Regions from separate parts of the Homo sapiens genome. Here all the other regions are linked to region 1. The links come from fine-mapping of genetic effects on gene expression. A gene starts in region 1. Each other region holds a variant in brackets. All regions are shown on one strand. Distances are from middle to middle. Region 1 holds the start of TRAK1 (trafficking kinesin protein 1). Region 2 holds the start of LOC107986077 (a long non-coding RNA gene). Region 3 overlaps ULK4 (unc-51 like kinase 4). Region 4 has its middle 30 kb from the start of TRAK1.

Region 1 (7,254 bases):
ACATGGAAAAAAACTTACAAATGACATTTTAAATAAATTTCACAATTTATGTCAAAAACCTTGTGATAAATATTCTACCTACTCACCTAGTCATAAGGGAACTGAAGGGTAGGAAGATTAGCTGGTGGCCCCCAAATCATTTATAGCATATTTAAAAGGCAGAGGTGAATGTTTCTGTGGTTTTGCAAAGATCAAATGCTCTCTCTAGAAATTAGCATAACAGGGCCCCTTTCTGCATTCCATCTGCAAAAACAAATCAACTGTGAAATAAAGGAGATTCCACTAAGAGAAGGAGAAAAAAAAAAACTTCTAAATTACACATTTAGAAAATATGTGTTATTCCCTACATTGTAATTTACATTTTCTCACTCTGTTGTAAAAGGGATATATATTTCACTGTCCATTCTTTTCTGTTTCATTAATATAGCCAAATAAAAGACCCATTTAGATTATAAATTTTCAATAGAAAACACAAATAAAAATTATACTAGAGAGAAATTGACAAGGCCTTAAATTTAATTAATAAGATGTGTAAGAATTCCATAATGTTTTATTTGAGCATGTTTTCAGAGGATAAGACATCAAGTTTTATGGCTTAAATCAGTGATAGAAAAGGAAAAGATCCTGGGTCAGGCATGGTGGCTCACGCCTGTAATCCCAGCACTTTGGGAGGCCGAGGCAGGGGGATCACTTGAGCCCAGGAATTCAAAACCAGCCTGGGCAATACAGTGAGTCACGAAATAACATAACATAACATAACATAACATAACATAACATAACATAACATAACATAACATAACACAACACAACACAACACAACACAACACAACAAAATAAAAGGAACAAATTCTAAGCCATGGCCCTTTGATGAAGAGTCCTCCCAGGCAGGGCTACTCCTGTTAGCAGATTTTTCCTAGGCAATTCTCACTCGGTTTACAGCTTCTCCTTTACACCCTGGCCCACCTCTGTGCTCTGAGGGCAGGACCAGTCCTCTCTCTGACCCCAGGAATTAACATAAACCCCAGTAAAAACCTGGCCCTGGGTGCACGCTGCTTCAACACACAAAAATAAGTACGATTGCCTCAGTAAGATGCATGTTTGAAGTGTCTTTAGGCTTATTCAATAAGATTTACATGTTTTAAAGCCTAAAACTGACTGGAATGGAACAGGAGCTCACTTCTCTCAGGAATTAACTGTTTTCTGGCCCAGACAGCTCTCAGGAAGCAGCGTGTAGACAGGACAGAAACCAGATGGGTCATCAACCACTGGACTCTGACCAGCTTAGAGGAAGTGAGAGGTGTCAGCCCCACAGCAAGAGACACAAGCCACAGCAGATCTGATTAGCAAGCCCTCCATCACTGGGGTGTGGATCCGAGTCCCAGGCCCAAGCATTTAGTAAAGGACAAAAAAGAAAGGGAGGGTGGAAGAGAGGGAAACGGGAGAGAGGGAGGGAGACAGTCTAACTCTGTCCTTCACCTTCTGAAAAACTCCTTGCTGACCCAAGATACCAGGTTAGCATCTAAGAAATCAGGATAAAGACAAGACATAGGATTAGAGAAATCAGAGCTGGAGAGGCGGAGGAGGCCTTAGAAACCCTGTCCACCCACTGCAGAGAACTGTGAAGGGAAAGGGAGTGGCAGTGCAGGGGGTCTGGGCTCAACTCAGCCCTGTGCTCATGCCCTGCAAGTGTCACTTGCACCTACTGAGCCTGGGCAAGGGGACAAGGGGACCTGGGAACGGGAGATGGGGGGGTGGTGAGGGCAGTAGTTGTGTCTCTGAAGTCCCTTTGCTCTGCCTATCATTCAACATGGCAATTTCTCTACCACATGACCATGAACAACCTCCCAAGCAGCACGGAGCAAGAGAGAGACAGCTTCTCCTGTGGTCTTTTCTCCTTTCCGACCACACCACAAAGAAAACAGACAGCAGACAGACCTGGCAAACAAACTTACCACAGGCGTTTGTCCGAATGAGCTTGCCGTGGCAGAGTCCTGGCAGAGGCTGAGCCCTGACGGGCTGCCCGAATTGAAAAACCAATGCCATGTGCAGACATAAACTCCAAAGGCACTTCAGAGAACAGAGAGAGCCTCCATGAGAGCTCAGCCCCGGCAGTACCTCGCACAGCCACCCTCCCGTGCCTTCCTCAGCAGTTTTCTGAGTTTGCTTGTTAGGGCAAATCCTAAGATTGTGAGCTGTCCTGGAAGCACAATGGGTTATGTAACTCCAGGCAGCCTGGGAACCCTATCAGCTCATCTTGTTAAGCCACCCCAAACAGAAAATGACGCACCCAAAAATGTGATACCTCTAGGTTGGGGGAAGGGGAGTAGCAAGGAGAACGGGGCTTTGTGATGGGCATTCGGTTTTGCCTAAAAATTAAAGTGGAACAAAAAGTCTGCTGTTCATCTCAGGGCTTGCTGGGAACTGGGGGAGGAGTGAATTTATCAAGGGCTGAATGCCAAGCAGTGTCCTGAGACTGCACTTGGCAAAGCCCTGGGAGGCCACAGATGCATTCTTGGGGATAGTCTAGGTCTCTCGGAGAACTTTTTTCCATTTAATGTCTTCCTTTCAATGACTGCCTAATAAAACTTTAATCCGAGCATGTTCTCCATCACCTGACAGCCCATCCCTTAAACGCATAAGAGTGTCTGTGTTTACTCTCCTGTTTACCAAGCCAGTGCTAAACACAACAGCACCGAGCTGTTTCTCAGCTTTCCTCTGGTCCCAACAAAGAACCCCCAAGTCACCACATCCTATAGGGTTTGAAGTTTCAGCACTACATTCTGCCACTTCTTTGTTGTGTTTTTTGTTGTTGCTGTTTCGTTTTGTTTTTTTGAGAGAGTCTCACTCTGTCGCCAAGGCTAGAGTACAGTAGCACTGTGTCAGCTCACTGCAACCTCCATCTCCTAGGTTCAAGCAATTCTGCCTCAGCCTCCCAAGTAGCTGAGATTACAGGCGTCCGTCACCATGCCTGGCTAGTTTTTATATTTTTAGTAGAGACGGGGTTTCACCATGTTGGCCAGGCTGGTCTTGAACTCCTGACCTCAGGTGATCTGCCCGCCTCGGCCTCCCAAAGTGCTGGGATCATAGGCGTGAGCCACCACGCCCAGCTGTGAAGTTTCAGCGGTACATTCTGCCATTTCTTTACCCTCCACTGTCACATTCAAAGAAAGTGAAAGCACTTTAACAGGCTGGATGCTTCCTGGATTTCACTGGTACAGATGCCACTAGAATCCCAAGGATCAATTCATGTGTTTGGACAAATGTAGATGCGGTTGGGTCATCGCCTCCTCCACAAAGCCCTCGTGGTCTTCTCCTGTCCTTTCCCCTCCAAGGTTCAGCCTGGCACCCTCCTTGGTGCCCTACTGTGCTGTGCTTATCATTGTGCTAACCTCGGTGTACAGCCAATTTCTACTCACTCATCTGTCTCCCCAACTAGACTAAATTCTTAGGCAGCAAAGAACCCTTGCCCTGGGGTCCTACAGACCTGGATGCAACTCCTGCCACTCAGGAGTTTCACCAAGGTGCTGAACCTTTCGAGATTTAGACTCTTCACTTACACAAAGAGGATAATAGTACTCACTGCACAAATTGACACAATTGATACACCCAACAAATGTTCACTGAGCGCTGGCCACAGGCAGGCACTACGTTAGTCACTGGATTCAGGAGTGTGCAAAGTAGACACAGAGTTTGCCCTCCGCGACTTTAGTCTACTGCAAGTTTGGGAGACAAAACACAAATACAGTAGTTCAGCAGATGGTTAAGTTTGGGGGAAAAAATTAAACAGGAAAGGGAGATGGGGAAAGGTGAGGCAGATCACTCTGTATTGGGGGGGGGTCACAAAAAGCATCAAATAAAATGTCACTTGGAGAAGGAAGAGGGGGTCATAAGGATATCTGGAGTTAAGGCAATCCAAAGACCCTGAGGCTGGATGTGCCTGGTGAGTTCAAGGTTAAGTGAGGCGGCCAGTGTACCTGGAGCACGGAGGGCACAGAGGAGGCAGGTCAGCGGGGCAAAGAGGGATTCCTGTCATTCAGCCCCTTCCTTACAGGTCTCTATAGAAGGGGAGCTCACTGGAAGTTTGGAGGAGAGTTAAACCATCTGATTGTATTAAAAGCCAACTCTCATGGTTGAGCGGAGAAAGAATTTTAGGGAGGCAAGGGTAGCAGTAAGAGGCCCCACTGGAAGGCCAGTGCGGTCATCCAGGTGTGAGATGGGGGTGGCTGGGACACAGTAAATGCTGGGTAGATTCTGAACATACTCTGAAGATACAGCCAACAGAATTCTTGACAAACTGGGGTATGAATCGCAGAAAGGCAGAATCACAAATGCCTCCAAGGTTCTTGGCCTGAGCAACTAGAATAATGAAAGCACCATTTACAAGGATGGGGAAAACCCTAAGAAAAGCAGGTGCAGGTGGAAACCAGGAGCTCATTTTTGGTCATTTGAGTTTGACATGCCTGTTAGACATCTAAGTGGAAACTCATGTGGAGTCAGTCTGAGACATCTGGCCTTAAGGAGGAAGGGCCAGGCTGAGTACAGAAACCACCGAGTGGCCAGTACAGAAGGCGATTTTAAAACCTGTGTGCTGGGTGAGATCAAGTGCTGCACAGGTGCACACATAAGAGCAAAGAGGCGGAAAGGCTGGGCCCCGGGCCCTTCAACGTTCCCAGGCTTGGGAGAAGAAGAAACGCAGCCACTGAGGCAGAAGAACAGGGAGAGTGTGGGGACCCAGAAGCCAAGTAAAGACTGTACTTCCAGGACACAGGACTTGGCAACAGTGTGAACTACCACTGAAAAGTGAAGTAAGGTGAAGGCAGAGGACAGACCCCTGGACTGAACCAGGCTGTCAGTGTGGTGGGGCATGAGCCTGCCTGCAGTGGACTCCAGAGAGAACAAAAGAAAAACTAGAGTAAGCAAACAGAAGAGCAGAGACACTGGCCTGCGGGAAACACGGGACTGAGAAGGATTCTATTTCCGAAGAGGGAGATCATAGCATGTTTCTGCACTAATAAGAAAGACCCAAGTGCAAGGGGAAAAGAATGATGCAGTAGAGAAAAGGGAGATGTTGGAACTGTGTCCTTCAGGGGGCAGGCAAGTGGGAGAGGGACTCAGTCACAAGCGGAGGACAACACATGTGGGCCACTTAACAAAAAGGGAGAGGAGGTGTGTGGGGGCCTAGCACAGCAGCTAGGCACCAGGCTGGGACCCCCGGCTTTCTCTGTGCCTTTCTGTATCCAGGAAACCCCTGACACACAGGAGGTCCTCAAGGCTTAACTGGTAACACAGAACCAAGAGAAGCTACTGGAAGCCAACTTGCATATATTAAGCTGTCATCAGGCATTACTTCAAACAGACAAACAAAAGCAAACACTGCAGACAAAAATGAGAAATTAAGCAAACTTCTATATGAATGCAACTGGATTGAGCTATAATTTTGCCACTTGCTGCTGTTATGCACACCATCCTACACCATTTCCATTGAGAGCCCTCTCTTGTGCTAGCTTCAAGCACTTGTCTCAATGCTTCCTTGGGGAAAATAAAAAAGCAATAGCTCTACTACTAAGTGCCCGCACAGATGTTAGGTGATTACCACCTGGGACACTGAGAGTTATGACTGACACAGGTATCTGTAAAAATCCATGTCTGTGCAAATCCTGATGGTGTACAAAGGGCACTCCATGTAGTTTTCTGTTTTTGCATCCCACAATGACAGTGCATGTTATTCCCACTACACCTGTCTTATATCTGAAGAAGCTGAGTGCAAAGAGAGAAGGAAGGGTTCAATACACTGAGTGCCTGTGATGGGCCATGCTTGCTGCTCAGGTTTGGATGTTACCATCTTTAACCTTCATGACAATTTAGTGAAATGCTGTCTACCTCTCAGTCAGGATAGTAGGTCAACAACTGACACAAGTTACAAAATGGTTCACTGGCAGAACAGGTTCTGGATTGGAGGTCTCACAATCCGAAAGCTCAGAGTCTTTTGCACTTTGGTGGTTCCTCTCCACATACCTCCCCAAGACCCTCCCATGTGGCTGCATTCCTTCCCTAGTCCTCAGTGACTGAAACCTCCCTCCCTTCCTCCCTGGCAGGGAAAGGGCCCCCATACCAGTAATGGTGCAGGCATCCCGGTACCCTCTGTAGCTGGGAGCATCTTCCACAGCCTCGCTTATGTAGTGTTCCTCAGGGATGCCCAGGCTGCAGGCTAGGACTGCATGGTTGCATGCCTCCGAAGGGGGCACGGAGTTGGCCAAAGTGTCGTCGTGCAGAGCTGTGGCGTCCAGCTTGGCAGGTTTCACGGGGAGGTGCCCACTGCCATCGGGGGCCCCACTGCCAGAGTCTGGGGCAGTTGGGCAGATGGCCCCCGGTAGTTCTGGTGCACCAGCAGGGGCTCCTTATAGGGAATCTATGGGACAATTGAAAGAGAGGGGCACAGTTAGAGTCTATCGATAAACCTGGACAATCTTTAGAAAATGAGGGCCCCGGGATGACGTGCGTTCAGACTGCGAATTCTGAAACGCGTTTCTCTCAAGTCAAGGCATCTCCAATCACATTGCTTAGTTTCAATAAAATAACTGCAGCAAAGTTCCATTCAACTAATCAATATTGACCAAAATGTGGAGCACATGGCTTCATTTGCTTACTGAAACCTGCCTTGAAGCAGCTCTAAGCAAAGAAACACACTGGAGCACAGCTAAAACCTGTATTCCTACAGGATTTATACACACAAAGAGAGGTAACATTTTTATTTGTATATGGAATTACATAAGATATGTTTCTCTTAAACTCTTTCAACCACAATAACTTCTCAACTCTCTAAGAACTTTAAGGTATGCCCCTACCTTAAGCTACAGTGAGAAATTAGGGGACTCCTTTAAGAACCTGATGAAAATGGCTGGACACGGTGACTCACTCCTGTAATCCCAGCACCTTGAGAGGCCGAGGTGGGCGGCTCATTTGAGGTCAGGAGTTCAAGACCAGCCTGGCCAATATGGTGAAACCCCATCTCCACTAAAAATACACAAACAAAAAAAAAATTAGTCAGGTATGGTAGCGGGCACCTGTAATCCCAGTTACTCAGGAGGTTGAGGCAGGAGAATTGCTTGAACCGGGGAGGCAGAGGTTGCAGTGAGCTGAGATCATGCCACTGGGCTCCAGTCTGGGCAACAGAGTGAGACTCATCTCAAAAAAAAAAAAAGAAAGAAAAAGAAGAATCTGATGAAAACTACAGACTCACCCTCATTTAAAATC
Region 2 (7,658 bases), 77 kb after region 1:
CCTACTATATACAAGGTCAGAGGCAGGGACTCAGAATGCAACGACAGGGACTGGGAGTGGTGGCTTGCGCCTATAATCCCAGCACTTTGGGAGGTCATGGCCAGCAGATCACTCGAGGTCAAGAGTTTGAGACCAGCCTGGCCAAAGTGGTGAAACCCCGTCTCTACTAAAAATACAAAAATTAGCTGGGCGTGGTGGCAGGTGCCTGCAATCCCAGCTACTCGGGAGGCTGAGGCCAAAGAATCACTTGAACCTGTGAGGTGGAGGCCGCAGTGAGCCAAGATCGCACCACTGCACTCTAGCCTCGATGACAGAGCGACACTCTGACTCAAAAAGAAAAAAAAAAACAAAAAACCAGAATGCAATGACAGGAACAAAGTCCACTTAAGATGGCAAACCTTAAGGTGTTGTTAGTTTGGAAAGTGAAAGTTTAAGAACTCCATTCAATGTGAATAGTGCTCTATTATTTTTGAAAGCCCTTTTATTTTTATGTTTTTTGTTTTTGTTTTTGTTTTTGAGATGGGGTCTTGCTCTGTCGCCCTGGCTGAAGTGCAGTGGCGGGATCTTGGCTCAATGAAACCTCTGCCTCCCGGATTCAAGCTATTCTCCTGACTCACCCTCCTTAGTAGCTGGGATTACAGGTGCCCATCATCATGCCCAGCTAATTTTTGTATTTTTAGTAGAGACGGGGTTTCACCATGTTGGCCAGGCTGGTCTCGAACTCCTGACCTTAAGTGATCCACCTGCCTCAGCCTCCCAAAATGCTGGGAATACACGCACAAGTCACCATGCCCGGCCCAAAGCTCTTTTATATTACCTGATTTGACCCTCATAATAAACCTATAAAACAATAATTACTATTATATGCTTTATTATCCCTGTTGGGGCTCAAAAAGCTTACCAAATTACAAACCCAATCATGTTGGAAGGAGACCTGAAAACGCTCCCATGTCATTCAGTCAAACTTTTACAGACACCTCCATTTAAAACATTGTCTCCCAGAGAGGGGAGAGCAGGACAGAGAGGTTAAGTAAGGTCACACAGCCAATAGAGAGGAGTTGGAATTTCAGTCCAGGTTTCCCACTCCAAGACCACAGAGAAGGAGAAGCAACACAGCCAGAGTGGAGACACCCTCAAGCGAGCGCTGGGGATGGGAAACTGGTCCCTGGGGCATCAAACAGGAAACGGCTGGTGCTGGGGCCAAGCTGAAACCCAACTGTTGCCAAACTCGCAGCCCTGAGACAAGGGCTTTAAACCGATTCAGCATCCCCCAGAGCCGGGCTCAGCTTTCCAGCTGGCTTAGGCTACACTGGGCTGGGAACCTCTGTGACAAAGCTGAGGTCCAAGATCAAAGAGCAACCGAGTATGACCATTCCAAACCGAGAGACAGAGGGGAAGGCGCCATCTGTCACTCCAGGTCCAACTCTCCAAACCTACCAGTCAAGCTCCCAGCCTGTTGTCCCTTCACTCAATCTGGGGAGACCCTCCCCAGTGCAGACTGGCTCCAGGGCTAATCAGAGCTTAGTCTGAGCACCTTCCTCTTCGCTGCTCTTGTAGTTGGAAATTGGAAAGGACCCTGGAACTAGACCGTTTCCCTATGGTAACCTCCACTCTCCTTCCAGATAAACAAAAGACCCTCCAGAAAAGGTTACCAGTCCCGAATACACACTCACAGACAGTATTGACAACGTTTACACTTTTGAAGCAAATAAAGTTCCAGTGAAGCATATCAGAAAAAAAAAAAAATCAGCGGTCCAACGACGAATACTCTGAAGGCTCTCAAAGCGGACGCTAATTTCAGTGTCTGAACAAGTGCAGCCACGGGTTCTAAAACAGGCAAGCTTAAAGCGGAAGGGGCACCCAGCACCAGCCTCAAGAGCAGGCCGACTTTTAACATCTTTCCTGAAACACAACTTTACAAAAGAAGAAACGATACAGTTCATTACATTTGTTTTTACCTGCAAGAGCTTGACCTTGGAGACTAGAAAAGAACTTTAAAAATCAGGTCAAGAAAGTGACAAAGTAAACTTGTTAACTCTCAAGGATGCAAAGGAGGGCTCTAAAGGCTCTCTGCTCTCTGACACGCTCAGATGATGTCATTTTCATCAAGTTTTGCGGGTGAGTGGGAATCGGGGTGCTGCCCGCGCTCAGCTCCAGGCTCTTTGAAGGTCGCCTCACTGTCACCTCGGAGTGCCGGAGCGCGGAATCCAGGCCACGCGGCGTGGCCGACACGATGCCCTAGGGGCACTTTTCCGGGCTCCGAGGGCCTCCTGCAGGTGCGGCCGGTGCATTAGGAGGGCTGTCCCCGCAGGGTCCCGGCGCCCGGCCTCTCACGCCGCCACTATCTCACGCGGACACTCCCAGAACACCCGTGTCCTTCCCCAGCCCCTGGGCCCGAGGCGCAGGCGGCGCGGGTGAGCGGACCCCTGGCTTACCCGCAAGAGGTGCACGGAGCGCAACCCGGCAGCAGGCGCGGTGCCGGGGGGCCTCGGTGGGGGCTTCCTCCGCGTCGTTCTCGGCCCGGCCCCGGCCGCCCGGCGGCTTCGGTTCCCTCCGCTGCAGCCGGCCGGGCGGCACGGGGGCACTCGCGGGGGCTCCGCTCTGGCGCCGCCGCCTCCTGCTGCCCGCCTGCCGCTCTGGCGCTCCTGGGCTCGGAGTCCGGGGTTCCGAGACGCGGGGGTCGTCGGGGCGTTCGAGACTCTCGGGGACGCTAAGGCTGCGCTCCGGCTCTCCCGCGCGCGGCCCCACTCTGGGGGACGCCTCGCTTGAGGCGCGCGGGCGTCAAGGGCTCGGGGCGCGCGGGGGCGGCGGCCGGGTGGGCCCCGGGGCGGCGGGCGGGGGCGCTGCTGCGGACGCGGGCACTGTTGCGGGCGCCGCCGCGCGGCCTCTCGCCATGGCTCCCCCGCGAGCGGGCGGCTTGCACCTCCCCTCCGCGCTGCCGTCACCGCCCGACGCGCGCCGAGCCCTCCCCCTTCCCAGCCCCGCCCGCCGCCCCGCGCCGCCACCTGCGGGCCGCCCTCCAGGATGCCCGCCGGCCACGTCCTAGTCGCCTGGAGCCGCGCCCCGCCTTCCTCGCCCGCGGCTGCCCCTGCACTTTTACCCACGCCGTGGGGCACAGAGAAGTATCCGGTAAAGACCTGGATCCGGAAAAGCTGATCACATCCCTCCCCGAGCGCTTATTTACTTCTAGCACTTCTCGGGGTCCTTCCAGAGTCAGTCTAAGAGAAGGATGGGACCCCCGCGGCCCGGGGCGCTGATTGTCGTGAACACAGTGGAAGTCCAGGCGTTCTGTTCCTGCAGGGCGGGCTGTCTCCTAGCAAAGCCGCCCTTAGGCTTAAATGGAGGGAGGATGGAGCCGGGGACGGGGGGAAGGCTGGAGGGGATGGAACTGGCTGTTGGACTAAGATGCCACCAAAGGGTGACAGGCAGGGGGCTGGCGGACAGCAGAGAGGGGATCAGGAACCGATCCAGGAAGTAAGAGCTCACAGGCCACTCTATTATGCAAATCACTTGTGGACGGTTTAACAGGGAACAACCCACATGATCTCATTTCCAGTTGAGGCTACTGAGTCTACTTCTTTTCAACCCAGGGGTCATAGAGGACATTGGGAGGACTTGAAGAAGACTCAGACCAGAACCAAAGGTGTAAGGAAACTAAACCCTGCAAAACCTGATTTCTCATACTGGCATAGACTTGACTTGAAGAGATCATCAAGTGTATAGTGAAGATTGGCTCAGGCAAGAATCATCCATGAATGCTTACTCTAGGGGGCTGTTACTGGCTGGCAGATATTTGTCTGGGTTGATGTGTCTCCCCATAGATGGTTTAGACCTGTTAGTAGCAAAAGCGGAAATAGTAACTATACAAAGAGGCAGGCAGACAGCATCTTAACCAGGTGATCAAAATTTACATCACCAATGAGAGCAGATGGATATCATGTCCACATCAGCTATGCAGTATTCCTGGGGACAATGCATAACCTGAATCATGATAGTGAAACATCGGACAAACCCAAAATGAGGAACATCTATTAAAAAGAGGAAGGGTCTGTATTATTCAAAAATGTCAAGGTCATTAAAATCAAAAGAAAGCTTGGGAAATGTTCCAGATTAAAGGGTGCAAAAGAGTCAGGGCAGCTAAATGCCATGCCTGATCCTAGACTGCATCCTGTGCTAGAGGAGGGGAAATACATCACGGACATTCCAGCTGACAAAATCAGAATCCATGTAAGAGATTAAAGTATTGGATCAATGTTAAATGTACTGATGTTGATAACTTCCACTGTAATTATGTACAAGAATATCTAATTCTTGGGAAATACACACT[A/G]AAGTATCTTGAAAGGGTAAAGGTCATAATGTATGCAGCTTACCTTCAAATGATTCAGGGGAAAAAAAATCTTGATAGGAAAAAATGATAAAGCCAAGTGGGCAATAAAGGTAAGGTGCATATTATCAGTGAATCAGCATATAGAGTGTACTTGAACATTTCTGTAAGTTTGAACTTATTTCCAAATAAAAAGATTTGGAAAAATCCATCAAGTTGGGGAATGAAGTAAGGTGGAAAGAAAGCAGGTATGATATAAAAGGGCAACACAAGGGATCCTTGTGAATTTGGAACTGTTAAACATCTTGAGTATGGTAGTACAGGTGATAAAATTATCTAGAACTTAATATACACACAAATGAGTACAAGTAAAACTGGGAAAATCTGAATAAGATAGGTAAATTGTATCAATGTCAATATCCTAGTTATGATATCATATTAAGGTTTTGCAAATGTTGTCATTGGGGGAAACTAGGCCAAATATATATATGTGTGTGTGTGTGTGTATTTTTTTTTTCCCAAGACGGAGTTTTGCTCTTGTTGCCCAGCCTGGAGTGCAATGGCACAATCTCAGTTCACTGCAACCTCCACCTCCCAGGTTCAGGGAATTCTCCTGCCTCAGCCTCCTGAGTAGCTGGGATTACAGGCGTGCACCACCATGCCTGGCTAATTTTTGCATTTTTAGTAGGGATGGGGTTTCACCATGTTGGTCAGGCTGGTCTCGAGCTCCTGACCTCAGGTGATCCACCTGCCCCAGCCTCCCAAAGTGCTGGGATTACAGGCATGAGCCACCGCACCTGGCCCAAATATATTATTTCTTAGAAATGAATGTGAATCTACCATTATCTCAATGCAATTTTTAATTACAAAAAAAATCATTTTTAATTACAAAAAAACTGTATGTAAATGGGCATGCCCATCAGGGAGCATGCCAGAGCAGATATGCTGGAGCTCTCATAGTGGATCTAGAATAGACATGGTGCTGTTACCAACAGTGAAGGCTTTCAAGAAAAAAAAAAAATTAGACTATTTGAAGTATAACTGACCGATCAGATTCCTTCCAGTTCTGTAATTTAACAATCCTAGAGCTGGGGGTTCTTTGAGATCATCTAGTCCAACCTACTCATTTTCTGGAAACTGTGGGCAGAAAAGTAGTGTGTGTCCACAGGAGCATCAAATTAGCGGTAGACCCGTTAACTACTGCTTGTCTGCCAAATATGTTCTACTTTCTTTACACCTTTACCAGCTGTCTGTCACTCCCTATATCTATGAGATTCAGTTAAGGCTGGTAGAAAATTTTGAAGTCATTCATTCTTTGGAGTCCCTGATTTGTTCTGTAGTGCCAGATGACAGGCATGTGGATTCTGCCCCTGAGGAGTAGGGACCAGTTTTCCTCTCCTACTCTCAGCTTGGAGGAAGCAGATGGCAGGCGGGGCCCCAGTGACAGCCCCAGTTCTGGGCCTGACTGAGCTGATGAACTACTTGGAGCAGCTGCTGACCTGCTGCTGCTGGAAGCCAGTGGAACAGGAACCTGGGAGGGAAGCAGAATGGATACAAGAAAGGAAAACAGTAATTGCCCTGGTAAGTCCTCCCTTCATCCAGCATGAGGCAGAAGTAGCTGCAACAGAGGCAACTGGCTTCCCTTGAGCCACAGATAGCCACTGTATTCTTTCCTTTTGTTGAATCAAATCGAAATTAATCTATGTTTACTTGCATTTGCCAGGCCCTCGTTAGTAACTGTGGGAAAATACAAAATAGAATATCTGATCCCTACCCATTAGGAACCCAGAATGCATCCAGGGACCCAAGGTGGAAATGTTGAAAGTGACCCAACAAAAGCAATTAAAAGGCTAGCTATATTAGCTGGGGTTCCCCCCAAAAGCAACATTGGAGAAGGACTCATGGGCAGATACTTTCTTCTGGAAAATGATCCCGTAGGATATGGGTAGAAAAAGAAATTGGGACCAGAAAGAATGAAACAGGAAAGAAAGAAAGCCTATTGAAGGATATAAAATTTCTGTAAACAACTGGAGCTTAGTCCCACTGAGGCCCCCTGAGGAACTGCGCAGAATGTAAGACAGAGGAGGAAATATTTAGCCACCAGTTCCTATCTCCCATTGGCCAACTTGATGCTGAGTTCAGGAGTGGTGGCTCACACCTGTAATCTCAGCATTTTGGGAGGCCAAGGTGGGTGGATCACTTGAGCCTCAGAGTTCAAGGCCAGCCTAAGCAACATAGCAAGACCCCATCTCTACAAAAGAAAAATTTAAAAATTGGCTATGGAAGTATGAAGGTATATGCCTGTAGTTCCAGTTACTCAAGAGGCTGAAGCAGGAGGATTGCATGAACCCCTGAACTCAAGACTGCAGTGAACTATAACTGAACGATGGCACTGCAGCCTGAGCAACAGAGCAAAACTCTTGTCTCAAAAAAAAAAAAAAAAGTAGATGCTGAGCAAAAAAAGCTAACTAAGATACAACATGGGACATATATAAAAGATGCCTGACACCAGCTTTATTCATTGCTGCAGTCCCAGCACCAACAACAGTGCCTGACTCATAGATGCCCCGTCAATAGATACAGAAAGAATGTCTGGGTGCGGTGGCTCATGCCTGTAATCCCAGCATTTTGGGAGGCCAAGGCAGGCAGATCACTTGAGGAGGATCACTTCAACTTCTGTTGAAGACCAGCCTGGCCAACAGGGTGAAACCCCGTTTCTACTAAAAATACAAAATTAGCTGGCATGGTGGTGCATGTCTGTAATCCCAGCTACTTGGGAGGCTGAGGCAGGAGAATCATTTGAACCCAGGAGGCAGAGGTTGCAGTGAGCAGAGATCATGCAGTTGCACTCCAGCCTGGGCGACAGAACGAGACTCTGTCTCAGAAAAAAAAGAAAAACAAAAAGAAAAAAAAAAAAGGGCGGGACGAGGTGGCTCACACCTGTAATCCTAGCACTGTGGGAGTCCGAGTCGGGCAGATCACCTAAGGTCCGGAGTTCCAGACCGACCTGGTTAACATGGTGAAACCCCGTCTCTACTAAAAATACAAAACAAATTAGCTGGGAGTGGTGGCACATGCCTGTAGTTCCAGCTACTCGGGAGGCCAAGGCAGGAAAAGCTCTTGAACCAGGGAGACGGAGGTTGCAATGAGTCAAGATCGCACCACTGCACTCCAGCCTGGGCGACAGAGCGAGACTCCATCTCAAAAAAAAAAAAAAGAATGAATGAAATACTGTAAAAAGTAGATCCATAAGTCATATATTGACAGTTTTGCGTGTGTGTCTATTTTTTTTGGTTTTTGTTTTTATTTTTTTTAGAGACGAGGTCTTGCTGTG
Region 3 (7,658 bases), 300 kb after region 1:
CACATTATAAATGATAAATGTTAGATATTCACTTTTACAACTGTTTTTCAGCACTTAGTTCATTGTCTGCAGGTGTTTGATAATGTGTTTTATTAATTAAAGGGACATTTTTCTATATAGGCTTATGAATTTATCAATTTAATGGTTATTACTACAATAGTCTCTAGTGTTTTAAAACAACCTTAGCTTTTATTGGCAGGCAGATTGTTTTATTTTTAAGTTTGTTGAAAATTGCCAACTTTCTTGTGCCAAAATAAGTAATAAAAGAGCCAAGTAAGCACCTTCTACTCCTTGACACAGAAGCATGTGTTACCTTTCAGGGGAATGATTGATGCACTTGGAGTTGCCTGACAGGTCTGTTCTCTTGTCTTTGTAGGCCTTGTGTAGAATCACTCGCCATTCTCCTACTGCCTTCCAGAATGTTATTGAAAAGGTGGGACTGAACTCAGTAATAAACTCCCTGGCCTCTGCCATCTGCAAAGTTCAGCAGTACATGTTGACCTTATTCGCTGCCATGTTGTCCTGTGGGATTCATCTTCAAAGACTAATCCAAGAAAAGGTTTGACTTAGATTTTACCTGTTACTCTACATTAAAAATTGTTTTCTTCTGCATTTTAGTGGTTCCACAAGTAATGTCATGTTTGTAGAATTCATTTTTTATCCCAAGAGGCCTTTTTGAACTTTGCCAAACCTTTGTACCACAGAATGTTCATCTGAACATGTTCCAAGAGCCTTTTAGTGATTAAAATAGAAATTCTTTAAATGGCTTCTGCCTACTTGTCCCATTTCAGTAATGTTAAACTGAAAATGTCTCAGTCCTTCCTATATGCTGGCATTTCTTATGCCTCACCAACTCCAGCTTCCATCTCTTTCTCCCATGGCCTTTGCCTTTTTTAGGGGGAGGAGTCCCTTTATATTTTTCTGCTTGCTCTGACCTATTTTTATTCCTTTCCTTGTAATACTCTGCCAGTTGAAATTATAGAGCCCCCATTCTGTTTTTAACCTATCCTCTTCTAGTCCTTTATATGCCTTTATTATATATACAGTAGAGTTTGTAAGTACTAAATTCGTATCACAGAACTGTATAGTGATAAACAGGGCTCTCTAGTAGCCTTTCTCAAAGTGTCTTCTCTAGTCCCTTGTTAAAGAGTGATCCCTGGACCAGCAGCATTGACATCACCTAGAAGCTTGTTGGAAATGCAGACTTTTAGGCCCCATGCAGACCTTCTGAATCAGAATCTACATTTTAGTGAGATCTCTAGGTGATTTGTTTGAACTTTATGCTTTGAGAAGCTTTGCTTGAGAATATTAGTGTTTGATGATGTGTTAACAGGTAAAAAATAAAGTAGGCCTGGCTATATATAAATTTGGAAAGCAATGATTCAAACTTAGAAATATTTTCAGTTGTACAATTTTTCCCAGTTTTTAATATGCTAATGTGTATTGTGATTGTGAATTCTCATGAGGGGAAAGTAGTATGCAGCATTATTTCAACCAGTCATTTTCTTTTTCTTTTTTTCTTTTTTTTTTGAGATGGAGGCTCGCTCTGTCGCCCAGGCTGGAGTGCAGTGGTGTGATCTCAGCTCACTGCAAGCTCCGCCTCCTGGGTTCACGCTGTTCTCTTGCCTCAGCCTCCTGAGTAGCTGGGACTATAGGTACCCGCCACCACGCCTGGCTAATTTTTTGTTTTTGTATTTTTAGTAGAGACGGGGTTTCACCGTGTTAGCCAGGATGGTCTCGATCTCCTGAACTTGTGATCCGCCCTCCTTGGCCTCCCAAAGTGCTGGGATTACAGGTCTTTTTTTCTATAAGAGGTAGAGAGGTGTACCTTTCAATTCAGAGTTTTGCAAAACATGATGAAGGTAACACTGCTTAGAAGTGTGGAATGGAACCACTTAAATACACTGTTTACCATGCTTCTTCTGCTTTAAATGAAACACATTAAATTTTGGTTTTTATAATGAAACTTAAAATGTCAGTAACTATTATGAATAACTCTCAGATTTGCATAGTAAACTTAATCTTTGGAAGTCCAAATAGAGGTAAACCACTTCTTGTCTTTAATTATTCTGATTTAGATTCTGCTAAGAAATTTGTGCCTCAGAGACAGTATTTTTTTCTAACAAATCTATGTGTCTAGTTTTTGCTATTAAATTTTCACTCATTAAATGTTCTTATTGTTATATTAGAAAAAGTAATACTTGAATAATTTTACCAGGTAATCCGTGGTTAGAGAGGCTGAGAGTTTTAGAAGAATTTGTGTGTGTGTGTGTTTTACCTTCAGCACAGGCATGGATTGATTAAGTTTCAAATATAGTATTTCACAAAAGCAGTAAAATAGGTTGTTATGTTAATATAATTTTAATTATTTATCATATATAACTACTATTCCACATGTCTTAAGGAAATGAGCAATTGTATGGCGTGATAAACAGTCTTTTACTTTTGATTAGTATTGGTACATTAAAAAAGTTTTTATTGTGGTAGATAACACATAACATAGAACTTATAATTTTAACCATTTTGAAGTGTACAGTTCAGTAGTGTTAAATATGTTCACATTGTTGTGAGACAGATCTCCAGAACCTTTTTATCCTGCAAAACTGAAAGTCTATACACATAAAACATTTTGGGTGGTGGTGGATGTTATTTGAATCTTCTATTTTAGAGTCCCCTCTGACACTGAATTGGCAGGGGGAAGAAGGGTGCTGCATTGATGTTGCTGGGTTGGGATGGAAGCACAGATCCCCAGTGGACTGCTTTTGCCACCTCAGGAGGTAGAAGAGCTCCTCATTACTGCTGGGTGAGAGTGCGAGGTCAGGCTTTCCACCAGGACTCCTCTGATGCTACCCCGGCTGCTGAGGGGAAGGGATCCTCATCATTGCCTCCACTGATGCTGGTGGAGTGGAATGGATGCCTCATCACTGGGGAAACATTGTACAGCATGGTGGAGGACTTTCTGTCGTTGGGTTGGGATGAAAGCCCCAGCTCTCTGCTTGGTCTTTTGTGACTCCACTCTGGCAGGGGATAATGCTGGGGCACCTTGCCATGGTCACATGAGGTTGGAAGTCTAGGCTCCCTACTTGCTCTTTGCTGGTGGGGTTGGGGTGTGGTTTTTCCATGGTGCTTGGCTGAAGTAGAGTAGCTATTTTCTAAAAATTTTCTGTCTTGCCAGGCTGCCCCTCTCTTGGTCCTTTGGTTTGAGAGAGCTGTTTTTTCTTGTGTATTTGTGTATGTATACCTGTTGGTGCTTCTAGACCCTTGGATTTTTCAGCACCCAATCTGGGATATAAGAGGCAAAAAGACAACTCAGTGAATGCATTGCTGTGTTGATCCTCAGGTTTCAAGGCCCCTAGCTGGTCTTCTGCCTTCTTTCCATGTATCTGTCATCTTATATTTGTTTTATATATATTGTCCAGGGTTTTTGGCTGTACTTAGTAGTAGGAATAGAGAGAAGTGCATCTTCTCTCTCTTGTCTTCTAGTTTTTTAAATGTATCTGTGACACCTCAATAATGTACAATGAATTTCTATTTAGAGTTCAAGATTCTATTTTAATAAAAAGATTAACAATTAAAAAATTTACAATTTATTGAACATTTGCTTTTTTTTTTTTTTTTTT[TG/G]GAGACAGGATCTCACTCTGGTTGCCCAGACTGGAGTGCAGTGGTGTGATCTTGGCTCATTGTAGCCTTGGCCTTCTGGGCTCAGGTGACCACCTCAGCCTCCTGAGTAGCTGGGACTACTGGCGTGCACCGCCATGTCTGGCTAATTTTTGTATTTTTTTGTAGAGATGGGGTCTTGCTATGTTGCCCAGGCTGGTCTTGAACTCCTGGATTCAGGTGATCCCCCGTCGCAGCCTCCCAAGGTGCTGGGATTACAGGTGTGAGCCACCATTCCTGGCCCTGAATGTTTACTTTGGGCCAAATGATTTTCAACTCTGAATCTTTCACAGATGAGACAGTGTGTTGAGTAATTTTGTCGAGTTCTTGGAGTGTATAAGTGCTAGATATAAGTGCTTATGCCCTAACAGGAGGGGCTGATAATAAACAAAACGCAGTAATTTGGGATAGTTTTAGTGTCCTGAAGAACATAGAACAGGGTATGTGATAGAGTGACTGTTAGGGGCAGTGTGCAGGTGGAGTGGAGCCACACATTATTAGCCTAGGTTAGGTTGGAGAACAGTCAGGGAAGGCCTCTCTGAGAAGGTGCATTCTGGCCTTGGATGATAAGAAAGAGCTTGGAATGTGAAGATCTAGGGGAAGAACTTTGTGGTTCAGCCTTCCTGAAGTGTGAGAGATCTTAGGGAGATGTGGGAAGAGAAAGAAGGTCATCAGAGTTGGAGCACAGCCAGCAGGGAGGAAGGGACATGGAAGAACCTGGGCAGTTGGAAGAAGACCCAGCTCAGGTAGGGTCATGATATTGGCCTTCCTAAGGGGTTTTAGTGCAATGATCATTGTCTTATTGTTACTTAAAGAAAAGTGAGTGTCGTCTATACCTGTCTATACATGTGTGTTTGAGGTGCAGATTTACCAGCCTTATTGTTGATAGGTTAGAATGAGTGGAAGAGGAAGAGACCCAGGAGCAAATACAAAATTGCTTCCTGTTGAACAGGGAGAAGGAATTCTACGTGTTGTTTTTTGGCGGGATTGACGCTCATATATTATGGTCTTTTACAATGGAAACCCAGTCTCCAAAAGAGTTCCATTCCCTTCCTTTTAAATAAAAGAAATTACTGTTTGCTACAGAAAACTTAGAAGACTCTAAAGAAGAAAACAAAATTAGCTGGAATCTCACTACCCAGACATAATTTTTGTTAACATGTTGGTTTATCTCTTTCTAGTTTTCTGTCTGCGTCTATGCATTTTATGCACACATTTACCAAGTTAAAATAAAATTGTGTTGATTTTTCTTGCTGTTTTCATGAGTATTTTACTATGTCATTAAATGTTCCTCAGGGATATTAAAAGAAACTTGTTATATGATTTATTTTGTGATGCACCAATAATTTAACTCTTCCTCCACTATTGAACTGTTTGGCTCCTGTTTTTTGGTTGCTACTCATCATGATATGATGAACACCCTGTTACATACATCTTTGTGTTCACCTCTAATAGATTACTCAAGTGTTATACACATTTGTAAGGTGCTGCCTTAATGTTGCTTGATTGTTCTTTGGAAAGGTAGATTATGTGGGTACCATTTATTTGTAATTTATCCAGCAGTCGTTTAAGCCACATGCTGTATTTTTCTTATAATAAAACCTAGAGTTTAACATTATTTAATTATCAGTATACTTCATGTTTTCATAGTTATTTGTAGTTTGTAATTAATCTCTGATTCTCCATTTGAAATTTGTAACTGTAGCCAGGTTTTCATCTTAAACTAACAAGGTGGTAGAGTCTATTCTCTTCTGAATCATAGACATTTTCTTGAGTGGATGTTTATGTATTGAAGGAACTTGTTCAGTTCACATTGTCATCTGCATTAGCTACTTGGGTGTCAGTGTCCTTAGATGGTTATTATTCAGCAGCTATTTGGATGAGTAGCCATTTGCATCATGAGTGCTTGATTTATTTTGTGTCATCATCTTTAAAATGATTTGCTTGCCCATAGATGTCCTTAATAGAAGAAGATTCCTTTATCCAAAACAACTGTTAGTTCCATACACTGTGATGTTAAAAGTGAACAATCACAACCACAATGAGAGGGGACTTTTGATTAAAAATCAAAGTAAAAAACCACCTTTTTCCATTTTTCCCCCTAAACACTTAATAGGAAACTTTTTTTTTGAGACGGAGTTTTGCTTGATTTCCAGGCTGGAGTGCAATAGAGTGATCTCGGCTCACCGCAACCTCCGCCTCCTGGGTTCAAGCGATTCTCCTGCCTCAGGCTCCCGAGTAGCTGGGATTACAGGCATGTGTCACCACGCCTGGCTAATTTTGTGTTTTTAGTAGAGATGGGGTTTCTCCATGTTGGTCAGCCTGGCCTCAAACTCCCAACCTCAGATGATCTACCTGCCTCGGCCTCCCAAAGTGCTGGGATTGTAGGTGTGAGCCACCACGCCTGGCCAATAGGAAACTTTTTGAACTATTGGCAGATGGTACTTTATATGTGATTCTTGAATCACTGCTAGATGTAGGGAATTGATTACCTTTTTATAATTCAGATGCTTGAATGACTGACCAAGAAGCTTCTGGAAGACCTGATCAAGTAGAAGAAAAAATCTTGTAGGTTAGGTATGAGTTTATTTACTAATCCTTGTACTCCAAACTCTTTTATTTTTCTAGTTTACTTTGTAGTCATTTTTCTGGTACTTCCAAGCTGTTAATGTTTCCTGCAAATATTTCATTTTCAAGGCTGGAAAAGTCTGAGAGTTCATGGATGTTTCCTGCTGTTTATTGGGGAGAAATATATTGGATGAGCTCATTACAATTTTCTATAATTACAATACCTAAAAACTTAAAGTAGTCAATGCTAATTTACTTTAATTGTTATCAGACTGTATAGTGACAAATTTTAGGATTCATATGAGTAGTATAGAGAATTCAAGCTGGGCACAGTGGTATGCACCTGTAGCCCCTGTTGCTTGGGAGGCTGTGGCTAGAGGATTGCATGAACCTAAGAGTTCAAGGCCTGCCTGGACAACATGATAAGACCCCATCTCTCCCTCTCTTTTTTTTTTTTTTGAGACAGAGTCTTGGTCTGTTGCCTAGGCTGGAGCGTAGTGGCATGATCTCGGCTCACTGCAACCTTCGCCTCCTGGTTCAAGCAATTCTTATGTCTCAGCCTCCCAAGTAGCTGGGGTTATAGGCATGAGCCACTGCACCTAGCTAATTTTTGTATTTTTAATAGAGACAGAGTTTTGCCATGTTGACCAGACTGGTCTCGAACTCCTGGCCTCAAGCAGTCGGCCCTCCCCAGCCTCCCAAAGTGCTGGGATTACAGATGTGAGCCACTGCTCTGGCTAAGACTCCGTCTCTATTTAAATAAAAAAAGAAAATTCAGAATATGTGGAATCAGAACACCAAAGGCCAAAGTTAAACATTTACCTCTCTGAGGTAATCTCTGTAAAAAATTTGATATATATCCTTTCAAATTCGTACTTGCTATGCATATATATACATATACACATGTACGCGTTGACATATTCCCTCTTCTCTGCTGTCATGCTATTAGTCTTTTTTTTTTTTTTGGTAGAAATTGGACCAACCCAACTCTATGTTCTTTGCTGGCTCATATTTCTCCTATTCAGTGATGTGTTACGAATGTGTGTTTAAGTCAATTTATGCAACTCTTCAATATCATTTTAAAAGGTTATGATATACGATCATTTAAAGGTATTGCAATTCATTCCTACAGTCCTCTTTTGCACATTTAATAATTTCCATTGATTTGCCAGGGAGAACATTCTTATGGCTAAATCCTTTTGTATGGACATCCTTAGTTATTCCCTTAAGATAAACTTTTAAATAAAGTTACTAAATTAGTCTCATTTCTTAAAAAGTTCTTTTTTGGTAGTTTATATGTAACACTGTAGTTTTATATGTACTTGCAAATAGCTATAGTGCCAGTAAAAAATGTGATAAAATTAAACTCTTTCACATATGCCAAAAATACTTTGATTTAACGCTTCATTAAGTTCCTGATTACAGTCTCTATA
Region 4 (7,658 bases), 28 kb after region 1:
GAGTACCCCAAATCTGAAAATTCAAAACCCAAAATGCTCCAAAATCCAAAACTTTTGAGCACTGGCATGGTGTTGAAAGGAAATACTCATTGAAGTATTTTGGATTTCAGAATTTCAAACCTGGGATGTTCAATCCGCAAGTATAATGCAAATATTCTTAATTCCAGAAGAATCTGAAATCTAAAACACTTCTGGTTCCAAGCATTTTGGCAAAGGGATACTCAATCTGTATTTTTATTTATCTTATTTTATTTATTTATTTGAGATGGGAGTCTCGCTCTGTGGCCCAGGATGGAGTGCGGTGGCACAATCTTGGCTCACTGCAACCTCCACCTTCCAGGTTCAAACAGTTCTCGTGCCTCAGACTCCAGAGTAGCTGGGGTTACAGGTGTGTGCATCCATGCCCAGCTAATTTTTGTTTGTTTGTTTGTTTGTTTTGAGACAGAGTCTTGCTCTGTCACCCAGGCTGGAGTGCAGTGGCGCGACCTCAGCTCACTGTAAGCTCCACCTCCCGGATTCACACCATTCTCCTGCCTCAGCCTCCCGCCATTCTCCTGCCTGAACCTCCTGCGTAGCTAGGACTATAGGCACCTGCTACCATGCCTGGCTAATTTTTTGTTATTTTTAGTAGAGACAGGGTTTCACCGTGTCAGCCAGGATGGTCTTGATCTCCTGACCTCGTGATCTGCCCGCCTCGGCCTCCCAAAGTGCTGGGATTACAGGTGTGAGCCACCATGCCTGGCATGTATTTTTTAAGTATAGCTACTTAACCCATTAAAAATATACCCTTACTATTCTATGGTAAAATTAATTCACAAATCATTATGAGAAAAGCTTTTCATATCAGGAAGTCTAGCACAAATATTTTAACTTCAGTATTTTAGGAAACAGTCTATAGTCTGCTTAAAGTATTTATTATGTATTTGTATTTCCATAATAAGTTCATAATGAAGCAACATTCATTCTATGCTATTAGTCTAGGATCACATGGTAGCTTCCTAGATTCTAGGTGATAATATTTTAGAGTTCTTAGAAATTACATTTGGGTAACTCAGACAGCAAGTTCAAAAATTTATTTTATTTCTTAATCTTCCAACATTGACATCAGACTGTAAGAGAATTCTTTTTAAAGGTTTTTTTTTTTAATTTGTATCCCTCTATTTATTTATTCATTTGAGACCGGGTTATAAGACTGGCTAATTTTTGTATTTTTGGTAGAGACAGGGTCTTGCTACGTTGCCCAGGCTGGTCTCAAACCCCTGGGCTCAAGGGATCCACCCACCTAGGCTTGAAATGTGCTGGGATTACAGGCTTGAGCCACAGCGCCCGCCTGGCTGCGAGCATTCGCATTTTTGTGATGTATCATTACCACCCAATACAGAAGGCATTTGTGATCTCCCTCAGGTCAGATAGTAATAAGGGCTGGGCATGTAAAATGGGTTCCCTCCCATCTCTAGTGCTCTGAAAGGGATGACTGGGCCTCTCTCTCACGTGGATATAATTTCCACATGGCCACCAGGGCTTCTCACATGCTGGCTGGATCCCAAGAAGGGGTGTTCAAAGTATGAGACAGAAATTACAGATCTCTTTAGACTCAATTTTAAAAGTTACACAGTGTCACTTCTACCGCAAACTATTGGTCAAAATACATCACCGGGCCAACGCAGATTCAAGGGGAAAGGTTACAGACTCTACATCTGGATGGGAGTATGGTAAGAACTTTCAGCCCACCACAGGGCCAGAGAGCAGACAATAAGGCACAGCTGGGCTGCCCCGGCACATATGCTTTTTTCACTGTGTGGCTCCCACCACTTTTTTTTTTTTTTTTGGAGACAGAGTCTCACTCTGTCACCAAGGCTGGAATGCAGTGGCACAATCTCAGCTCACTGCAACCTCTGTCTCCCAGGCTCAAGCAATCATCCCACCTCAGCCTCCCAAGGAGACGGGGCTACAGGCGTGTCCCACCAGGCCTGGCTAGTTTTTGTAATTTTTGTAGAGACAGGGTTTTGCCATGTTGTCTAGGCTGGTCTCAAACTCCTGATCTCAACTGATTTGCCCGCCTCAGCCTCCCAAAGTGCTGGGATTACAGGCACAAGCCACCACACCCAGCCCCACCTTTACAAAAGAGCAAGAACTGCATCACAAAGGCATTCCTGGTTGGGCAGGGGCAGTGGGGAATGTACTGACAGACAAAACCCGGATGCTCCTTCAGCAATGGCTTAGGGCAGGGCTTGGCAAACTTTTCCCGCGAAGCGGAAAATAATAACTATTTCAGGCCTTGAGGGCAATACAGTCTCCGTTGCAATTCCGCAGTTGTAGCTGGAAGGCAGTCAGAAAATATGGAAATGAATGGGTGTGGCTGTATTCCAATAAAACTTTATTTATAACAGCAGGCGGTGGGATGGATTTGACCCATGGTCTGTGAGAATAAGCACTGGATTTGGTACTGGAAAACCAGGCCTGGAATTCTGACTTTACTACTCACTACCAGTGTGACCTTGTTTGAGTTTCTTAAAATTTCTGAAGCACGTCCTCCATATCTCAAAAACAGGGATAATGTCATCCATCTCCTAAGGTGGCTCTGGGGAGTGAGGTAATACAGGTGAAAGTGCAGTGCACATCCCCTCATAAGACAAACACGCCTTCACTGCAGTGCAGAGCCTGGAAAACAGCTCAAGGGGCTGTAGGGAAGTCCCACCAGGCAGGACACAAGGGAGTGTCAGGCACTGTTTTCCAACAAAGTGAAGACTTCACTGATGAGAATTATATTAGGCAGCAGCAGCCTAAATAGTCTTTGTTAAAGACCTATCCTTGTTTTGCTTTTTCTCAACAGCATAATACTTTGTTTTAAGGCATACAGATAGCGCTGACACAACCTATTTCACAAACCCTATTTCACACAGAGTAGCATGCATGGTCAGTGAAAAGGAAAATAAAAACCACCAACATGAAGAAGCCTCAGAGGTGCCAGGACTCAAATACAAAGTTTTTCAGAGGGGTAGCAGTATAGTCATGCTGTATTTAAGCTGGTTTTGTAGATTCTGAAATGTTAAAAAATAGTCTCCAAGACAAGCATATTTTTTAATGCTAAAAGTATAACTGGAATTATTAAACATGTGAATGCAAACTTGATTTTTTTTGAAATTGGCCCTAGTAGGAAAAAAAATATTCAAAATTAAGACCTATCCTTAGCCAAAGGAATCAAAAGCACTGAAGCATTTTGTTTGCACCTCCGCTAATACGGCACTCCTTTATAATACCAGTAGTTCACCAAGAGATTGAGAGTTTCACAAGAGTAACAGGCAGCACTGTACTCCTGCTTTTGGAAAATTCCACTTCATCCACAGGAAAGTGGACATGTTAGAAGGTGAGTGACTTGTCCATTGTCAAAATCTTGTCTGCTGTAGGATTCCTGCCACACATATGAGCAGGATCTCTCTCAGCCATGACTCCTCTTGCAATTTCAATGTCCCCTTCTCCCAAATGGGCAGCCTTAGCCAGAAGCAGCTGTCCCAGAGCCTCCACCCGAGACAGCTGCATTCTGGAGGGATGGCGTCAGCAATAGCCTAGAAGGGCGTGGTTTCCCTCCTGAGCCCCAGAGTGAGTGCCAATGGCTGTCATCATTTGAATTGAATATCCGTTTCCAAAATAACCTGGACCATTTCCAAGGCAAAGTACTACTGAATAAAGCTCAAATCCATGCAGATGGGTAGATGGATGGGCTTGTTGCTCCTGATTCATTAGTTAATAAACTGGTATATATTGTTGGTGTTCTGATTCATAAATTAGATGGGAAAGAAGTGAGATGACTTAGCATAACACAAGCCAAAGTGAACATTCCCAAATTCTCTTGTATTTGTACTTGCACGGAATGGAATTCTCACATGATGGCTGGGATTTCTATATTAAGTGTCTCAGGCCAATCTTCTACTAAATAAAGTTCAAGTGGCACTGGGTTCAC[A/C]TGATATTCAGAGCTCTGTAGCAGCTGATTGTTTTCCCCGTATCTCCTGCTTTGGAACTTCAGCTTCAAAGTAGCTCCTTGCCTGCTTTTGCCATGGCCAGGGTCCACTCTGTATCCAGGAGGTGTAAATATGATGAGCTATGAAAAGGCTGACAGACAACAGGGCTGCCTCCCTGGCACTGTGTGTGTGTGTGTGGGTGTGCGTGGGGGGGTGGGGTGTGCATGGGGGGGTGTGCGTGGGGGAGGTGTGCATGGGGGGGTGCGTGTGTGGGTGGGTGTGTGCATGCACGCATGCACAGATGTAGACACACACCCATCACTTGAAAACTTAAGGTCAATGGTTACGTAAGATGTTAACATTAGAGGAAGCTGGGTCAAGGGTGTATGGGAACTCTGCACACTTTTTGTAACTTTTCTATAAATCTAAAATTATACCATAACAAAGAACTTTTTAAAATGCACTTTTAAGTCAGCTTCCAGGCCTGAAGCATACCATTTAGGTTTTCACAGGGTCCTTCAGCATAAGTCATTAAGTCCCTTGGAGGGTCAGTTTATTTAGCCCTAAATGAACCTGATGAGATCCCCAAAAAACTGCAAAACAAACAAACAACAACAACAAAAAAGGCCGGGCGCGGTGGCTCATGCCTGTAATCCCAGCATTTTAGGCGGCCAAGGTGAGCAGATCAACTGAGGTCAGGAGTTCGAGACCAGCCTGGCCAACATGGCGAAACTCCGTTTCTACTAAAAATATAAAAAAAATCAGCCAGGAGTGGTGGCGGGCACATGCAATCCCAGTTACTCAGGAGGCTGAGGCAGGAGAATGACTTGAACCAGGAAGGCGGAGGTTGCAGTGCGTAGAGATCGCACCACTGCACTCCAGCCTGGACAACAAGAGCAAAACTCCGTCTCAAAAAAAAAAAAAAAAAAAGCAGCCAAAAATGACCTGACAAACAGGTGTGATATTAATATGACAACATTCACATTAAGGCTTGTTCCCAATGACAGACTGAGACTATAAACCAGTGAGACTGCTAAGGGACCACGCCTGGAAAAAGAGGCACTCCTCTACCGTTACATTACTCTCCTGTCCCACAGTTTCAAAGCTGCCCCGTCTCTCCTCCCTGCTCCTCAGAACCCAGAGGTCTTGGTATCTGCTATTCCCTCTACCTGGAATCTCCCTTTACCACCCGCCCTCACCCACCACCACCCCCCACCCCCCACCGTGGTGCTGTAGCCATCTCTGTCTTTTTTCATATCTTAACTGACATCTCAACCCCTCGGCATCCCCTTCCTTTATTTTTCTTCTTAGAAGCTATTCCTTCTGATACACTACAATATACTCATTTGTTTATTTCCCCTCTCTCCCAAATAGAATGTAAGCTCCATGTGGATGGAGCTTTTGTGTGTTTTGTTCACTGCTAACAGGATTTCTTGAAAACCTTCTATGGGCTTTCCCCTGTGAGTCTTATTGACATGGTTCTCTGGAATCATTGGGAAAAAAACAGAATGTTTTTTAAAAAGAAAAGACATTTCTTATGCAGGGGGAAAGAAAGAAGTGATTAATATCAAACAAGCACTTTCAGAATTGCTATGTACCTGTAACACTGTCCTCCATGCTTTATTGTATCATTGTCCACACTAAGTATATTACTTTATATAATCTCACTCATTCCTCAATGATCTGTGAAGTCAAAGGAGCAGGCGTTATTATGCCCACTGCACAGAGGAAGAAACTGAAGTACCACAAGCAAACGGTGAAGCCAGAACAAGAATCTAAGTTACCCTATATCCTGCCTAGAAGAGCCTCCATCACAGCTAGCTGTCTCTCTGTAGAAGAATAAAAATACTCTGAAATAAGTCACTTTTAAATTTTTTTCTGGAAAATAAAAAGCTTTCTGAGTTGGATGATTTTTTTAATAGAACACAAATATGAAGGAAAACTATACATGACCTGTCACGTATATTCTTGTAGGAAAATGCACAGAAGTGTCCACGAGGAAGAAAGGAAATCCCCGAGGCCTGCTGATAGGCACAGGGAGAAACAGGCCACAGTTCTCTTTTAGCCACTGTTTTGAAAATTTTATTAGAATTCATAAAGACTATCAAAAAGATAACTGATGAAGACAAGTCATTATCTTTCTAAAATATGGTTAACTCAGGTCCTATCCTGGAGTGGAGAGCAGGGATGGGAATCTCAAAATCTGTATACACACAGAAGCACACTTGACAGGGCCCTGAAGTCCCAGCCTGGGCAACACAAAGAGGCCTCGTCTCTAATAAAAATTTTTTAAAATTAGCCAGACATAGTGGTGCATGCCTATAGTCCCAGCTACTCAGGAAGCTGAGGGGGAGATTCACTTGAGCCTGGGAGGTTGAGGCTACGGCAAGCCATGATCGCACCACTGCACTCCAGCCTGGGCAACAGAACAAGACCCTGTCTCAAAAGGAAAAAAAAAAAGTTCCCTGAAGTCCAAAGCCTACTTATATCATACGTATGTATATTTGTGTGTATACATATACATACAAATATATACACGCATGCATACACACCTGGATTTATTTTAAATTCAGTAAATTAGCACTTTATCTTTAAAAAAATTGCAGCACAGAGCAGATGGTAAAGAGTAAATCTCTTAAGATACACATTTTTTCACATTTCAATATCTCTAAAATTGAATTTTGTCTTATAGCCAATCGTCCTTTACTATGCTTACTTTGTAGCATTTTTTGCTTTCTTAGAGGTACATAAAGCAATGGCGTATCTTACGATCTGTTGTGTGTGGGGGTGGGAGCTCAGCGCAACAATTCAAATGGGCCACCAAACAATGGGCAAGGCCCACAATGGACATTAAAGGGAGATCCCTGCATCAGCCAGGAGGTAGGACAGGTTGACTTTAAAGGTTCCCTCCAGGCCAGGCATGGTGGCTCATGCCTGTAATCCCAGCACTTTGAGAGGCCGAGGCAGGCAGATCGTCCAAGGTCAGGTGTTCAAGACCAGACCAGCCAACATGGTGAAACCTCGTCTCTACCAAAAATACATTAAAAAATAAGCTGGGCGTTGTGGCGGGGGCGCCTGTAATCCCAGCTACTGGGGAGGCTGAGGCAGGAGAATTGCTTGAACCCGGGAGGCAGAGGTTGCAGTGAGCTGAGATCACACCACTGCACTCCAGCCTGGGCAACAAGAGTGAGACTCTGTCTCAAAAAATAAATAAATTAAATTAAATTTAAAAATAAAGGTTCCCTCCAGTCCTCAGTTATCATAATAAAGATGAACATGATAAAATGAAATTTAAAGGCAAAAGCATACTTACAAACAAACCTTGTCTTCGTCAATCTCCACAACTGCCAAGGTACATGAGTATTATCTATATTTTAAAGATGAGGAGGTTCCAAGGAGTATTTTACCCAGAAGCCGGCCACAAGTCTCACTTCCCAATGAAATGCCCACTGTGGCAGAGCAGTAAGAGAAGCAGCAGCCAAACCAGAAGAGCTTAAAGGTGGCAAAAATAACCCAACCAAGGGGCGAAGGGCAAACCTGGGTAGCAGTAAAGGAGGAAATGATATTTGAGTTCAGCTTTACAAGGAAGCTCACTGAATGACATGTTCAGGTTTACAGGCATTTAAAATGAAAACGCCTTTCAGTTGGTTGTATTTTCTGGTTCCTTCAAATACTTAAGAATAAAAGCACAAACTGATT

Evidence for each region. PIP is the estimated chance that this variant, and not a neighbour inherited with it, causes the effect.
Region 2: its variant is fine-mapped to the expression of TRAK1 in whole blood (TOPMed, PIP above 0.99).
Region 3: its variant is fine-mapped to the expression of TRAK1 in whole blood (INTERVAL, PIP above 0.99).
Region 4: its variant is fine-mapped to the expression of TRAK1 in tibial artery (GTEx, PIP above 0.99). The same link has a PIP of 0.9 or more in aorta, atrial appendage, fibroblasts and subcutaneous fat.

What each region holds. Positions count from the first base shown.
Region 1 is chr3:42,086,259-42,093,512 of GRCh38, reverse strand. It overlaps TRAK1 (trafficking kinesin protein 1), which reads right to left and starts at 2,156. Exons shown (of 16, transcript NM_001042646.3): 1 at 1,953-2,156. The coding sequence starts at 2,043.
Region 2 is chr3:42,008,895-42,016,552 of GRCh38, reverse strand. LOC107986077 (a long non-coding RNA gene) reads left to right here and starts at 2,984. Exons shown (of 2, transcript XR_001740668.2): 1 at 2,984-3,129; 2 at 3,591-4,535. It also overlaps a transcript of TRAK1 not described here. RefSeq lists enhancers at 1,217-1,718, 2,112-2,251, 3,232-3,301 and silencers at 2,442-2,511, 2,572-2,731, 2,772-2,841, 2,932-3,051. The variant A/G (reference allele first, on the strand shown) is at 4,328.
Region 3 is chr3:41,782,562-41,790,219 of GRCh38, reverse strand. ULK4 (unc-51 like kinase 4) reads left to right here. Exons shown (of 37, transcript NM_017886.4): 21 at 377-559. Among named protein-coding and RNA genes, the nearest start is that of ULK4, 180 kb to the left of the region's middle. The variant TG/G (reference allele first, on the strand shown) is at 3,621.
Region 4 is chr3:42,057,857-42,065,514 of GRCh38, reverse strand. It overlaps a transcript of TRAK1 not described here. Among named protein-coding and RNA genes, the nearest start is that of TRAK1, 30 kb to the left of the region's middle. RefSeq lists a silencer at 3,513-3,732. The variant A/C (reference allele first, on the strand shown) is at 3,962.